2 linked regions of the Homo sapiens genome follow. The protein of the gene in region 1 interacts with the protein of each later gene in a pairwise test. Each region holds a gene or a part of one and is shown on either strand. Other genes may lie near its edges.

Evidence for each region.
Region 2: the proteins of ATP2A2 (region 1) and OPRD1 interact in binary tests that used the Homo sapiens proteins (3 or more experiments, as listed by UniProt).

Annotation. Positions count from the first base shown.
Region 1 is NC_000012.12:110,339,619-110,347,627, forward strand, and holds part of ATP2A2 (sarcoplasmic/endoplasmic reticulum calcium ATPase 2), read left to right. Parts: coding exon 1-103; intron 104-1,040; coding exon 1,041-1,376; intron 1,377-2,609; coding exon 2,610-2,830; intron 2,831-3,613; coding exon 3,614-3,816; intron 3,817-5,267; coding exon 5,268-5,353; intron 5,354-5,630; coding exon 5,631-5,764; intron 5,765-6,382; coding exon 6,383-6,500; intron 6,501-6,582; coding exon 6,583-6,852; 3' UTR 6,853-7,774; coding exon of another isoform or gene 7,775-7,794; 3' UTR 7,795-8,009.
Region 2 is NC_000001.11:28,863,917-28,871,925, reverse strand, and holds the end of OPRD1 (delta-type opioid receptor), read right to left. Parts: 3' UTR 659-8,009; downstream 1-658. UniProt on the Homo sapiens protein: G-protein coupled receptor that functions as a receptor for endogenous enkephalins and for a subset of other opioids.

The sequences.
Region 1 (8,009 bases):
TGGCAGCGACACACTGCGATGCCTGGCCCTGGCCACTCATGACAACCCACTGAGAAGAGAAGAAATGCACCTTGAGGACTCTGCCAACTTTATTAAATATGAGGTTAGCTAATGAAAAGTTTCTTTGTCCACACCCTGCACGATTCATTGTGTTTAAACAGTACTCCTTCAAGCAAAAGGTCAAACAGTTCTCACTTTTGCCAAGAAAGAGGTGTGGTTATTTGTTTTTCTGCCTGCCAGCTGTGTCACCCTTAAAATTTGCTGCTTCAAACATACATAGTTAATAATTTCATAAAAGTGTTATTTTCAAAGTAGAATATTTTCAAAGTAGAATAATCAAGATGAGCTTAAGCTTGTAAACCCCATTTTGCCTCTCATCTAAATCATGATTTTTTTTAAATTGGTGACATTTCTAGAATATTCATTAGTTACTGAAGGTCAAAAGATCCAAGTTGGAGATTACTTCCACTTTTCTACTCAGAGTAGAATTCTTTTATATCAAGGATGTGACATCCTAAAGCTATGAACAAAATGAAGAAGCTTTGGTACTGTGGGCTCAGAATAGCACAAGAGTTAAAGAATGGTTTGATAACGGGTGTAGTGGTATTTTTTTTTCTCATAAGAAAATGCAAAAACCGCCAGGCACGGTGGCTCAAATGCCTGTAATCTCAGCACTTTGGGAGGCCGAGGCTGGCAGATCACCTGGGGTTGGGGGTTTGAGACCAGCCTGACCAACATGGAGAAACCACATCTCTACTAAAAATACAAAATTAGCCAGGTGTGGTGGCGCATACCTGTAGTCCCAGCTACCCTGGAGGCTGAGGCAGAAGAGTCTCTTGAACCTGGGAGGCGGAGGTCGCAGTGAGCTGAGATTGCGCCATGGCACTCCAGCCTGGGCAACAAGAGCGAAACTCCGCCTCAAAAAAAAAAAAAGAAAAAAAATGCAGAAACCTGTCTCAATGTTTAACTGGGCATTTTTCAAACTAGGGGACAAAAACTAGAACTTGCCACTTTTATTTAAAGTGATGCTCTTATTTTAGACCAATCTGACCTTCGTTGGCTGCGTGGGCATGCTGGATCCTCCGAGAATCGAGGTGGCCTCCTCCGTGAAGCTGTGCCGGCAAGCAGGCATCCGGGTCATCATGATCACTGGGGACAACAAGGGCACTGCTGTGGCCATCTGTCGCCGCATCGGCATCTTCGGGCAGGATGAGGACGTGACGTCAAAAGCTTTCACAGGCCGGGAGTTTGATGAACTCAACCCCTCCGCCCAGCGAGACGCCTGCCTGAACGCCCGCTGTTTTGCTCGAGTTGAACCCTCCCACAAGTCTAAAATCGTAGAATTTCTTCAGTCTTTTGATGAGATTACAGCTATGGTGAGCATGTTTGAACATGTACAGGTGACTCAGGCTACACAAGCACATAGTAGCCTCTAATTTTGACCACTGAATTTTTTTGTCATAGCTCCCTAATTTGGAATTTGTCATGATTTGGGTCTTTTCTCTAGAATTCGGTGAATCAGTGGTTAGCATGTTGTGTGCTACTTGCAGGGAAGATCCTAGAGTCGTTTAAAACCCAGAAGGGCCTTCCAGATCAGTCCCAGAGGAACAATCTGGTGATCTAGTCTCTTTTTTAAATGAGACGTGTTTTTATTGTAAGTTTTCTGAAAATTGAGGATGTAATCAGTCAGTTGTTTGGATCACCCTGCTTTTAAGTTCTTTAAGAGCTGGCTATTGATGAAGCATTTCCAGTATTCTTCCCCTCACCTGATTTTCACCCAGATACATTATGTTAAATTTACTTTCTTCTCTTTTAAAAAAAAATCTTAGTTTTGAAACATACTATAAGTGTACTCTCCTCTCCCCCAGAGGTAACTGAAGTTGGAATTTAGCAAAAATATTAAAAACATGGGAGTGCTGTTTTTGTGTCTGTAGACAGTATTATTTTTGCATGCTTTTGAAGGCATATTTTTTGGCCGAGTGCAGTGGCTCATGCCTGTAACCCCAACACTTGGGAGGCCGAGGCAGGTGAATCACTTGGGGTCAGGAGTTCAAGACCAGCCTGGCCAACATGGTGAAACCCCGTCTGTACTAAAAATACAAAAAATTGCTGGGTGTGGTGGTGGGCGCCTGTAATCCCAGCTACTCGGGAGATTGAGGCAGGAGAATCGCTTGAACCCAGGAGGCGTGCAGTGAGCCGAGACTGCGCCACTGCACTACAGCCTGGGCGACAGAGCGGGACTCCATCTCAGAAAAATAAAAATTTGCATATTTTTGCAATCTGCATCTTTCTACTTGAAATTTATCCATGTGGATACAAGTGCTTCCTCTTGACTGCCACATAGGTTGTGTTTTTGTTTTTAGTAAGATAATACAGATAAATTTGAAGTCCCCTTTGTCCCACTTCGGTAAACTTATTTGGTAATTTTACATTTCCTAGGTAAAATGTGTTTTGTGACACCAACTTATGAAACAAAAATTCTAAAACTCTTTGCCAAGAGACCTACGGCTCTATTCATTTTCCTCCTGCTTCCCATTCAGTGGGCTTTTGCCTAGGGGTATGAATGTGGCATGCCAGTTGGCTGACCCAACCATTGCTTTCCCTTTCAGACTGGCGATGGCGTGAACGATGCTCCTGCTCTGAAGAAAGCCGAGATTGGCATTGCTATGGGCTCTGGCACTGCGGTGGCTAAAACCGCCTCTGAGATGGTCCTGGCGGATGACAACTTCTCCACCATTGTGGCTGCCGTTGAGGAGGGGCGGGCAATCTACAACAACATGAAACAGTTCATCCGCTACCTCATCTCGTCCAACGTCGGGGAAGTTGTCTGGTAGGTCTCTGTGACAGCATCACTTACTGTACGCCTTTATCTAAATGGGTCATGGAGCCCAGTTCTCGCAGTTTGCTCTCCAGATTGCAGCAGCTTTGGTCTTTGTGCCTGAGTTGGAAGAGGGGAGTGGGCAAGACAGAAATGCCTTATGGAAGCAGTGGTGCTTTGGCCCTCGGGAGGGTTGTCTGCAGCTGCCCCAATGTGCAAAGAATCCTCTTTAACGTGAGACTGAGCTAACATTAACCAGGTAGTCACATGAAATTCTTGCCCTCCAAAAGTTGGCTTTATCTCAGTCAGCTTAATAATTTTTTTATTTTTATTTATTTTTTTGAGACAGTCTCGCTGTCGCCCAGGCTTCGGGCAGTGGCACGATCTCAGCTCACTGTCCCCTCCACCTCCTGGGTTCAAGCCTCCCGAACAGCTGGGATTACAGGCATGCGCCACCACTCCCTGCCATTTTTTTGTGTTTTAGTAGAAATGAGGTTTCACCATGTTGCCCAGGCTGGTCTCTTAACTGCTGAGCTCAGCCAGTCTGCCCACCTTGGCTTCCCAAAGTGCTGGGATTACAGGCATAAGCCACCGCACCTGGCCTCAGTCATCTGAATTTAAGTAATAAACTAAGTAAAATTGAGCTTTAATTCAAAATTGGGTATAAGTATTTTACAGATTACCTGAAGTTGTTGTCATTTATTTTTCTGGAGGAGGGCGGGTTGATGATGCTCTTTAAATAGTGGCCAGAAGTCATTTGGGCTCTCTTTGTCTTCTTTTCTTGATTGGAAACAGTATTTTCCTGACAGCAGCCCTTGGATTTCCCGAGGCTTTGATTCCTGTTCAGCTGCTCTGGGTCAATCTGGTGACAGATGGCCTGCCTGCCACTGCACTGGGGTTCAACCCTCCTGATCTGGACATCATGAATAAACCTCCCCGGAACCCAAAGGAACCATTGATCAGCGGGTGGCTCTTTTTCCGTTACTTGGCTATTGGCTGTGAGTACAATTTTTTTATATTACTGATTTTTAAACAAAATGTTTGTGAGCTGAAATTTTGTAAATTCATCCCTTAAAAGCGTGTTTTTTCTTCTATCCCCGTATAGGGTAGCAAAAGACAGAGATGCCCTCTTACAGTTCGATGAACTATACATCCAATTTACCAGAGTCCTTTCACAGTTAGTTCCAGTTTTAGCATCCTGCCCTTACTTGGGCTTTTCTGAATGAGCAATTAAACATCAGGGTTTTCAGATTGAGCCCTCTGTGCAAAGGGATAAGAATGATTCACGCTAGGTTCTGCCTTCCAAGAGTTCATAGGTGGGATTTAAATAGATAATTGTCACCAAGTTATAAAATTTAGTCCCTGTTTCCATAAGAGAAGGGTTGCGCAGTGGCTGGTCCCTTTTATATATAAATCATCTCTTTAGCCCTCATCTTCCTCACCCCGGGTTCTTCCCCATTTCATAGATTGGGAAAGTGAGGTGAAATCACTTCCCTGGGATCCCATAGGAAGGCATTGTGTTTTCATAATATATTCACATGACTTCAAATTCAAAAAGCACACAATGGCATAGAATGGAAAGGGTTTGGGCCAGTCACTTCCCTCTGGCGTTGAGGTGCTCATGTACCCTGTGCCCTTCCGGAGAGATTCCAGCATGCTGTGCACACCTGCATGTTGACCCTTGTCTTGCCTTCTTCCTGCTTGTCAGATCCTTCCATATCCGGACATGCGTAGTGCCTCATCCTTGCAGCCAGCGGCCTTCATGCTCCACTGTAATTCGTGGGTTAGTGGGTATATGCACTTGTTGTTTTTGATGCTACCACATGGGGATATTTGCCTCGTCTGAACTCTGTGTATTCTCTGCTGCACCTTGTTGCTTCTTTGCAATAAACTTCCTGAACTCAAAGCTAATACTGGGGGGAATCCCAGAAGCTGCTGAGGGCAGGGCCATGCTGCTCAGTGTTCCACCCTAGCTCCTGACAGCATTTCCCTAGAAAACTGCTGCTGGGCCTCTAATGGAGCAAATAAATCTGTGTACAACTAGGCAGCAATAGTTTGTCCAAAAGTCCTGGTGTAATCTAGTCCCTCAAACTGTGCAGCCTTACATGGAGTACACACACACTTGCAGCCTTGAAGTACTACCCACTGAGGGGAGAAGGCACGGCAAGGGGAAAGGTTGGCACAGGATGGAGCAAGTGCTTTTTCTCACACATTCTGGAGGAAAAGTTATCCAGTTCTTCTGTTCTAGAAACACCCCTGTCCTTCAGAAACCAGGGTCTAGTTGCTCTGGCTACCAGGCGTGAGCAGGTGGTGGTAGCACCACAGGCCCCGGTTACCATCACTGTCCCATGTCTTTGATCTTCGTCCTTGTGGGGACTGGCCTGCATGGCCTCGGTGGCAGCGAGCCCTGCAGAGGCAAGTGCATCAGCATCACTGTGTTTGTTCCCAGGTTACGTCGGCGCTGCTACCGTGGGTGCTGCTGCATGGTGGTTCATTGCTGCTGACGGTGGTCCAAGAGTGTCCTTCTACCAGCTGGTACTCAGTCACCTTTCTTTCTGTACCTTACATGAGAAGTGTTGTGAGGCCTTGACCTTTCTGTGGTTTCGGTATCTATCAAATCATCTTAAGACTCAGACAATAAACAGTTACATCTAAGATGATTCTGAAGGACCAGGGCTTCTCCGAGAAATTGGGGTAAACCTCTTGGCTGGCTCTGCATTCAGGCTGGTCTGTGCTAGGCTTGGTATGGGGTTGGAGCCTGGACTTGGGAAATATACTGGGCTGATAGGAATTTGATTGGATTTTCTTGCAGAGTCATTTCCTACAGTGTAAAGAGGACAACCCGGACTTTGAAGGCGTGGATTGTGCAATCTTTGAATCCCCATACCCGATGACAATGGCGCTCTCTGTTCTAGTAACTATAGAAATGTGTAACGCCCTCAACAGGTTAGTGCACCTTCACGGCAGGCTGAGGCGAGCATGGTGACTGCCAGGGCACCGGGGAATTGTGTGTAGTCACGGTTGATTGAGGATCACAGGACAGTTCTTCCCTTCCCAAAAGAAAGGAGAACAGGCAATACCAGTTTTAAAAGCATGAGCTGTCGTCACCTCCAGGAAGTAGTGGGAGTGCTTAGCCCTGTGTTTCTTAGGAGCTCTTCCTTAAAAGAAACCGTGGGGGCCAAAAATAGGAACTTTGGTACCCCTGTATGCCAGCACCCACAGGGAAGGAACCTCACCCTTTCACACAGACAAATGGTACCATCCAGTTAAGCCCGTGACAAAAATGGAAATTTCTAAATAGCCCAAGTCTCCAGGGCAATTGGGAACAGCTTTGAACCCACTAAGATGGGGTCTGCTATGCCAAAACATAGATACAGAATTCACAGTTTGTCCTGCATTAGGACATTCTCTTCAACTTTGCCACTGTAGAAAGTGGAGGTAGGTCAGCGGATGGTGCCACATTAACAGCCGCCTTACTGAAGTGTAGTCCAACAGGGTCTTACTGCCACTGTGACACGTGCCTTGCCTTGGGGGTGCGTTTCCCCACCTCTCCTTGCTCTGCAGCTTGTCCGAAAACCAGTCCTTGCTGAGGATGCCCCCCTGGGAGAACATCTGGCTCGTGGGCTCCATCTGCCTGTCCATGTCACTCCACTTCCTGATCCTCTATGTCGAACCCTTGCCAGTAAGTGGTTGGGTGGGGCTTGGGACCAGCCACCTCCTTCCAGGGGAGGCTGGAGGCGTGACACGTCTTCCCTGTGTGTCAGCTCATCTTCCAGATCACACCGCTGAACGTGACCCAGTGGCTGATGGTGCTGAAAATCTCCTTGCCCGTGATTCTCATGGATGAGACGCTCAAGTTTGTGGCCCGCAACTACCTGGAACCTGGTAAAGAGTGTGTGCAGCCTGCCACCAAATCCTGCTCGTTCTCGGCATGCACCGATGGGATTTCCTGGCCGTTTGTGCTGCTCATAATGCCCCTGGTGATCTGGGTCTATAGCACAGACACTAACTTTAGCGATATGTTCTGGTCTTGACTGACAGTTTTCCATAAAGAAGATGTTTAACTTAATCAATTAATTTTTTTATTGTTTAAAGCAACTGTCTATTTCTGCTGAATTTTCACATGAACATACTGGCTGGTGATGGAGGTTTCATACTCTAGATTTTGTTTTGCTTTTTCTGACTCCAGTGGGGCAAGATTTTCCTTTTTTATACACATAATTAAAGTGTCCATTGACATGTACAGAGAACTAACACTATTTTATGCAAATATTTTTTTGTAGATGAAAAAGCATGTACAGTGTTCTGTTTAATACTCATCCTTGTATAAAAAAAATAGTTGAGCCAGCAGACATTGTCAGCAAATTAATTGGCAGCAGATTTTAGGAAATGAATGTGTGTGGTTTTTTTTCTAAAACTAAATAGCATGTATTGTGTCTTTTGCATGATGATCCGGATTTAATTTGATATCACAGTCTAATTTTTATTCATAAGCCAATTTTTCTGCACTGAGCAGAGTCTTGCTACCTCAGTCAGTATTGTTTTGGTTTGCTACTTCCCTCACCCACTTTGGCCTCCGTTCACCCCACCCCACCCCACCTCTCCCCACCTTACCCCCGCCCCGCTTGGCTTCTTCTTTAGGATTGTGATGGTTCGTTCTGTTTACATCAGTTTTAACGAGAGGTATGCCTGTACTCGCTTGTGCAGAAAACATTGTTCCAGATTCAATCGACTGGGTTTATGTCCCTTCACATAGTTTTTAAGGTTATTTATTTAAATGTCTAATGTATTTTATTGTAACAGACATTGTTTTGCCAACATTGCCTATTTCAGTGGCACGTCATCTAGTTTTAAAAAAATAAAACATTTTAAATGGACAGAGAAAAATAACTGTCTTGTCTTTAACTCGTAAGTGGCTTACCTGGGACTAACAGACATGTCCAACTTTCTCTCCAGTTCTTAGCTCAGAACTTTAGTTGTACTCTGCTTGAGGGGAAGAAGGCTCCTGCTCTGCTGTGTAGGTAGTCATAGGAATTGTATTCTTAATGTACAGGCACTAATTGTCATCTGTGATGTACATTTTATGCAAGTTTCTGCTGGCCTGGTATAGAGAACATAAGGGCAAGTGTGTATGTGTGTGTATGTGTGTGTTTTGTAAAATCTGTAAATAGCACATGACCAAATGAACATA
Region 2 (8,009 bases), on another chromosome or scaffold:
ATTTAGTGGAGCCCCAAGAGGCATGTGGGGTGGGGAGGGCTCTGGAGAACAAGGGACTTAGATTAGGGGAGTGGCGGGGGGGAGGGCTGCAGGGAAGGGGAGGCGCCAGTTCAGAGGGTGGAAGGGGAATGGAGCACCGAGGCCTGGTTTGGTTCAGAGCTCGCTCTAGGAAATGCCTGCCTGTGTGTCTGTCTCTCCCATTAAACTAGAGCCTTTTTTTTTTTTTTTTTAGACAGTCTCATTTTGTCGCCCAGGCTGGAGTGCAATGGCGCAATCTCGGTTCACTGCAACCTCCGCCTCCCGGGTTCAAGCTATTCTCTGCCTTAGCCTCCTGAGTAGGCGGGATTACAAGCACCCACCACCATGCCCGGCTAATTTTTGTATTTTTAGTAGAGACGGGGTTTCACCATCTTGGCCAGGCTGGTCTTGAACTCCTGACCTCGTGATCCACCCGCCTCAGCCTCCCAAAGTGCTGGGATTACAGGCGTGAGCCACCACACCTGGTCCAAACTAGGGTTCTTAAGGACAACATTGCCTCTCCCTCTGAGACACATCCTCAGGGCAGAGCCAGACTTCCCCATAGGCTTATGTGATCCCCCAGACTGGGGGCCCCTTACAAGGGAACCTGGCAGAGGTAAGCAAACAAAACAGCCAGAGATGCAGACACCGAGAAGAGGGCTCACTTTATTGAGAAAACAGAAGGTTGAGTACTTGGTACCAAGATGGAGCCTGGGGTAGGCAAAAAGCCTGAAAACAAAGCTTTAAGCTTCCTTTTTTACATGCCCGCCTCCCTGCCCCTAATTGGGGCAGCTCCTATTACAGACCCCCAGGCATTCTTTTCCCTGTCTCTGGGCAAATGCCCAGTAGATTTTACCAACAGATGTCTGTTTCTGGGACCCAGGAACATGAGGGAAGTGTCTCAGTTCTTTTCCAGGATGGCAGAGCCTTCAGAACCATCAACTCCTACCCCTCCATCGTGCAGAGGCCCAGAGAGGGACAGAGACCTGCCCAACACCACAGCAATGAAGTGGACAATGAAGATTCAAAACCACATTTGCGGTCTCCTCATTCCGAGAGGAGATTCTAGATGAGCCCCGTTACAGGAGTGTATTTGCACCGGCACACGCCAAGGGACTCCATCCCCATGACGCAGATGGCCCGGGACCTTCTTCCTTTCCAGGCTGTCCCTTCCTCTTGGGTCCCTGAGAGGGCAGTCCTGGTGAGGGCAGGAGAGGACAGCTAAGGCTAAGGAGCTTGGGAAAAGATGTCCTCTTAAGAACTGCTTTCCAGCACATGTTGTCCCACCTTCTGAAATTCAAGGAGATGGTTAAAAGAGAAAAGCCTTTCTCCGGACCCACCTGCAGCATTAAGAACCATGGGTTGGGCTGGGCACGGTGGCTCATGCCTGTAATCCTAGCACTTTGGGAGGCCGAGGTGGGTGGATCAGTTGAGGTCAGGAGTTCGAGACCAGCCTGGCCAACACGGCGAAACCCCGTCTCTACTAAAAATACAAAATTAGCCGGGCACGTGCCTGTAATCCCAGCTACTCAGCAGGCTGAGGCAGGAGAATTGCTTGAACCCGGGCGGCGGAGGTTGCAGTGAGCCGAGATCTCGCCATTGCACTTCAGCCTGGGTGACAGAGTGAGACTCTGTCTTAAAAAAAAAAAAAGAAAGAAAGAAAGAAAAAAAAAAAGAAGCATGGGTTGGTGCAGGCATGGCCTAAAACATTAGATAATATGAAAAAAGCTGCATTTTATTGGGCACTTACTATGCACCAGGGACATTGTTCATTAGCTCAGTAGATAACTACTGTGTGTCCATTTGCATTTCCTGGGAACACTTTCATGACCAAAACAGACAAGGTCCTTCACTCATAGCCTCTTTCTGAATCTTCTCAACTTCTCATCAGCTAAGTGCTGTCATCCATGACTGAGAAATGGCTCAGAGTGAAATGACATGCCCAAGGTCACAAGGCAACAACATGGCAGTCAGTCAGAAAATTATCAAACAAGCAGGACTTCCAAGGCAAGGAAGAAATGGATGGGGAGAGGGATCTACCAAGGTTACAGCAGTTTTTTGAGCAGCTGGCACGTGCCTCTGCTGCCAACATGATGAGGTACAGAACCCAGCACAGGGAATGCTCAGCCTGTGACTGTGAGCTGGATGTGAGAGTCTCCTGAGGACCCTCGGTATACTCAGAGCATTTCCTCTCAGGGTGCAGGAAGAGGAAAGCAGAGGAAGTGGACTTGAAGGACCAAAGGTGGGATCCTAGCTGAGCCAATCACTGAGAAGCCATGTGGTCTTGGGCAAGTCATTCCCTTCTCTGAGCCTCAGTTTCCCCATCTGTAAAATGGAGGTAATGATACTATGCCTACCTCATCATCATGCTGTGAAGATTAAATGAGTTATGCCATGGAAGTGCTGTACATTACCCATTGATAATGTCTCAGTGGCCTCTCAATGAAATGGAGTGTGACAGAGTGCCACACTCTGAAACGGCTCATCCCCGGTGATGGTGCTGGGACTAGAACCCGGGCAACCTCGCAGTGCCATGCCCTACTGCATCACTACGTCCACCTCGAGGGCCCCCTCCAGCTCCTCTCTAAGCCCCATTTTGAATTCCCAAGCTGCCTGCAGCCTGAACCACACAGCCATCTGTCACCCAACTCTCAATATCTGCAAGCTCAGCGTGGGGCGGCCAGGTCCTGATTTGCTCCCGTCACTCCTCCCGGCTCCCAGAAATAAAGGAATAAATACATGATGAAAGAGAGGCATCTGTATGTGTTTTGTGTGTGAGTGCAGGGGCCAGGATCTGGGTGCCAGGGATGGGGGGTGGTCACTTCCTAGGGGCTTTGGGGCCGCTGGGGCCGGCTTCAGTCTGGATCTGCAGCAGGTGTTAGTGGGAGCTGGCAGCCAGTAGTCATGCCCTAGGTGAGGGATCTGCGGCTGACACAAAGAGAGGGCTGGCCTTTGGACAGAGACCCAGCAGGTGCCCAGCCTGGACTGTTGTTCTTCCAAGTCCTCTCAGGATGCTAGTGGGCCCTCTCCAACTTGAGGAGCATTTCTTTTTAATTTTTTTTTTTTTTCAGACAGAGTCTCGCTCTGTCGCCCAGGCTGGAGTACAGTGGCAAGATCTTGGCTCACTGTAACCTCTGCTTCCTGGGTTCAGGCGATTCTCCCGCCTCAGCCTCCTGAGTAGCTGGGATTACAGGTGCACGCCACCACGCCTGGCTAATTTTTGTGTTTTTAGTACAGACAGGGTTTCACCATGTTGGTCAGGCTGGTGTTGAACTCCTGACCTCATGATCCACCCGCCTTGGCCTCCCAAAGTGCTAGGATTACAGGCGTGAGCCACTGCACCCAGCCCTTGAGGAGCATTTCTAATTCCAAGCCCAGCAAGCCTCCTTAGAGCAGCTGCCTCTGGCACACGTGTAATTATCAGAGAATAAGCCTGTATCGAGGCCCCACTATGTGCCAGGCACTTTGGTGGCACTTTGCTTACCATATCTCTAGCTTTCAGAGAGTGCTCTCGTGGAGGTGAAGTGACTTGCCTAAGATCACACTGCTAGCACGTGGCCAAGAATTCGGCAAAGCTAGGACTCTTATTAAGTGAGGCTGATGATCGTATTAGAGATGGACCAATTCCCACATCTCAACTCTAGAAGGAAACTGAAGCTCAGAGAAGGCAAATCCCTTGTCTAGGTCACACAGCCAGTTAGCTTGAGAGCTGGGATTTGATCCAGGCTTGGGGGCTGCCTGGGCCATGTAAAAAACTAAATTGGAGAGCTCCCATCACCCTCCTGCCCTCCCTACTCGCATCCTCTCTTATGACACTTGACATTATCCATCACTCCCTCCTCCTGGGAACGCCCTCCTCCTCCAGTTTCCATGGTAGCACATTCTCTCCATCCTCCTCCTGCTTCTCTGGCAGCTTCTCACTCTCCATGGTGGCTCCTGGGCCAGGAAGCAAGGGGATCCCCAAGCTGGATCTCCAGTCTCTTCTCTCTCTCCATCACTAGCCCCGACAGCTCACCTACTCTTCCCTGTAGGTCTCTAGCTCTGACCCTGAACCCTGGCTCCACTTGTAAGCAGTGACTGCCACTTACCATGTACTTAGAGTTTACTTACGTTCTGGGCCTTATCCCTATACATACATTAAATCCTCACAACCACCCGTGAAGGAAGTCTACTCTACAGATGAGGAAACTGAGGCTCAGAGAGGGAAAACCAAGATCTGATTCCAGGCTTAACCACTACTTCTACTGCATCAAGACGAGGTATGAGAGCTGGGCACAGTGGCTCACACCTGTAAACCCAGTACTTTGGGAGGCCAAGGCAGGAGAATTGCTTGAGGACAGAAGTTCAAGACCAGTCTGGGCAACACAGAGACACTCTGGTCTCTATTGAAAAAAAAAAAAATTGGCCGGGCTTGGTGGCTCACGCCTGTAATCCCAGCACTTTGGGAAGCTGAGGCGGGCAGATCCCCTGAGGTCAGGAGTTCGAGACCAGTTTGGCCAAATGGTGAAACCCCGTCTCTACTAAAAATAAAAATATTAGCTGGGTTATGGTGGTGCACACCTGTAATCCCAGCTACTCAGGAGGCTGAGGCGGGAGGATGACTTGAACCCAGGAGGCGGAGGTTGCAATGAGCCGAGATGGTGCCACTGCACTCCAGCCTATGCGACAGAGGGAGACCCTGTCTCAGAAAAAAAAAAACCCAAACAAAATAAATGAATAAAAATAAAAATAAAATTGCTGGGCATGGTGTCACACACCCGTCGTCCCAGATTCTCAGGAGGCTGAGGTGGGAAGATCACTTGAGCCCAGGAGTTTGAGACTGCAGTGAGCTATGACTGCACCACTGCACTTGCACTCCAGACTGGGCAACAGAGCAAGACACTGGCTGAAAAAAAAAAAAAAAAGATGATGAAGAAGAAGAGATCTGAAACAGTAGGACATTTTGAAATCAGGGGCAAAAACTTCCCTCCCTCCTCCTGGAGGGAGATAAATGGAAATTTTGGGGGAAACAGACCTACTCTGCAGTTTTGAGAACCCTGTGACGATCTAGAATTACACTGTCAATTTAGAGCTTTAAAATGCACCATGCACAGTACATTCTGAAACGTGAAGATTTGGAGAGCTTCAGGAGGAACAAAAGTTCATGGAAAATTGCTCGTTTCCTTTAGATTTTTCCATTTGGTTTTAGGTCTTCAAAACCTCATTCTGGGGTTCCAGCTTCTAAGGCCTTTCTACTTCACTGATGCCTGGAATTAACTGGAAACATGGACCCTGGAATTCCAGGGACCCAAGTTCTGCCACTACGAACAGGCCCTGTGACTTAGGAGCAAGTAGCCTGACCTCTCTCAGCCTCAGCTCTCTTTGTCCTCAATGGGGATAACACTACTTCCTCACCAGGCTGTCCTGAGGATCAGGTGGGCTGATGCACACAAGACACCTGGCAGAGAGCCTGGCACACAGAAGAGCTTAGTTAAGCCCCATGCTCCAGCTGCACCCAACTTGTTGGGTTTGCCAAGCATTTAAACATCCCCATGCCTCCGCACACGCTATTTCCTCTTTTTGGTGGCCAACTCCTATTCATCCTTCAGGGTCCCCGACCCTTTTCCACCTCTTACAGAACTGCGACAAACATGTGTTTTAGTGAAAAGCTAGAAAAGGCACTTCCCTGTGACACCCTCCCTGGGGCTCCCTGTCACCGCACTCATCACACTGAGGTGCAATCATCTGTTGATGCTTTATCTCCCAACACTGGCTCAGGCTTTCTGAGGGCAGGGCCAAGGCTGACTCATTCCGAGTCCTGATGCCCAGAGTGCATGCTTGGCATGAAGTAGATTTCAATACAAGTTTGCACTACCTTAAACACACGTGGTCCGGACCCGGGCCCTGCTGACCTCAGGACAGATTTACATATCAGAAGGGGCAAAAAACAGCCAGATCTGTTACAGACACAGGAGATGGCAGTGAGTGGGCTTCAAGCAGCCTTGAAACAGGCCTATCCTGGGAGGGGACACAGGTCCTGCAGGGAGAGTAAACAGCCTGGCTCCAATGTCACCTCCTTCAGGAGTCTTCCCCAGTTCCTAGATTGTCCCTTTTTCTGCCATACCCCCAAAGCATTCACAGGAGGACCCCTGATGAGGAGAAGTGTCTCCTGCCATGCTGACGACCTCCCACCCTCAGACACAGGGGTCTCTGTGGTCACAAGGTAGTGAGAGTGATCTAGGTGGCTTGGGACCCCAGGTCACAATGGCTTGGCAGGCTGGATGTGAGTGCTGGGCATGGCCCCACATCTTTCCAGGACCCGGGGTAGCCATTTCCCAAAGGAGGCACATCCCCGGGTCTGGGGCTGCTGGGAGCCTCACCCTGAGAAGGGGGCTGTGCTTTGCCCTCTGAGAGCATCCCTTCCCCCTAATGTGCCCAAAGCCCCTCTTGGTGCCTAAGTCCCCAGCCCCCTGCATGCTATTCAGTCCCTGCTGGAGTGACAGCCTCCCAGCTTTTGTTCCAAAGACATGGCTGTCAAAGGGAAAAGAAGTATATTGTTTCTTTTTCTTTTTTCTTTTGTTTGAGACAAAGACGTCAATTTCTTTCCATCTGTCCCAAAAAAGGAAGAAAATTAAATTTGTTTTTACAAGGATGTCAGCACACTGCTTCAATAGGGAGTCAGGGGTGCATTACTGAGGCAGTGTTGGTGAGGGAGGGGACAGCAGCGGAGGGAGAGGAGATGAGGCACGGGGGAGGTACAGAGAACAAGGACAGACACTGATATTCTGGGAAGCAAAGATCCAGGAGTGCCTGAATAAAATGCCGAACCAATGAAAAGAAAAACTTCTACACCCAACTCCAGGTGGATATCACTCTCAGCAGCGTGAAGGGGACAGCTGGGCTGGAGCAGGTGGGGGACCTGGGGAGCCTGGGGGGAAAGGCAGAGGGGGACACACACTGATGCCGGCATTGCAGTTACAAAAGCTTCTCCCCCCAGTTCCTTCAAGGTCAGGTCCCCATATGGGCAGTTCCAGTTCACTGGAGTCATTGACACCAGACACATGGATGCAGCCAGATGTTGGGAGAATGGAAGAGGATTTCATCCAGGTTCTTATCAGGGCCCAGGACCCAGCACCAAGTGCGAACTGATGCTTCTCATACCCCGCCCCCCGCCCTCAAGAGTCCCAGGCACCACTTACCATCTACGGGATCTAAGTAGGTGGTCCTCTGTCCTCCAGTATCTGGGCCAGAGAAACTAGGGCCCTGGGGACTCACAGAAAGCATCCACCTTCCACTGGAAGACCTAACCTTGAAGCAGGAGCCCACCTCTTCCTCCACCCACCCACCACCACCCCTTGGCACGGAGGTCCACTCCGGGTCTGGGTTTTCGAACTGGTTTTGGAAGCCTTCTCCTTCCCAAGCCTCTGGGCCCCCATTAGTACTCAGTTCTGGGGACCCTACTCCAACCAAGGTCCTGTCTTATTACCCTATCCTGGAGTGGCTGCCCCCCGCTCTGCTGTCCTGTCCCAAGCCCCACTGTGGCCACCGATTCTGAGGGATTCCTGCCCATTCCAAGGAAATACATGCCTGTCAAAGAGATAAAAGGTATACTGTTTCTCTCTCTTCCTATCTCTTCTTCCCTCATTCTCCCTCTCTCTCCTTTTTGAGAGACAGAGTCTTACTCTGTCCCCCAGGCTGGAGTGCAGTGGCACCACCATAGCTCACTGCAGCTTCAAACTCCTGGGATCAAGTGATCCTCTCACCTTCCAAGGAGCTAGGCCTGCAGGTACACACCACCATGCCTGGCTAATTTTGTATTTTTTGTAGCGACAGGGTCTCCCATGTTGCCCAGACTAGTCTCGAACTCCTGGGCTCATGTCCATCCACCTGCCTCGGCCTCCCAAAGTGCTGGGATTACAGGCTTGAGCCACCACGCCTGGCCCCTCAGTCTTTTATATTCTATTTATAAAGGTGTCAAGTCGGACCTGGACCTCAGCGAGCCTTGCCCCTTG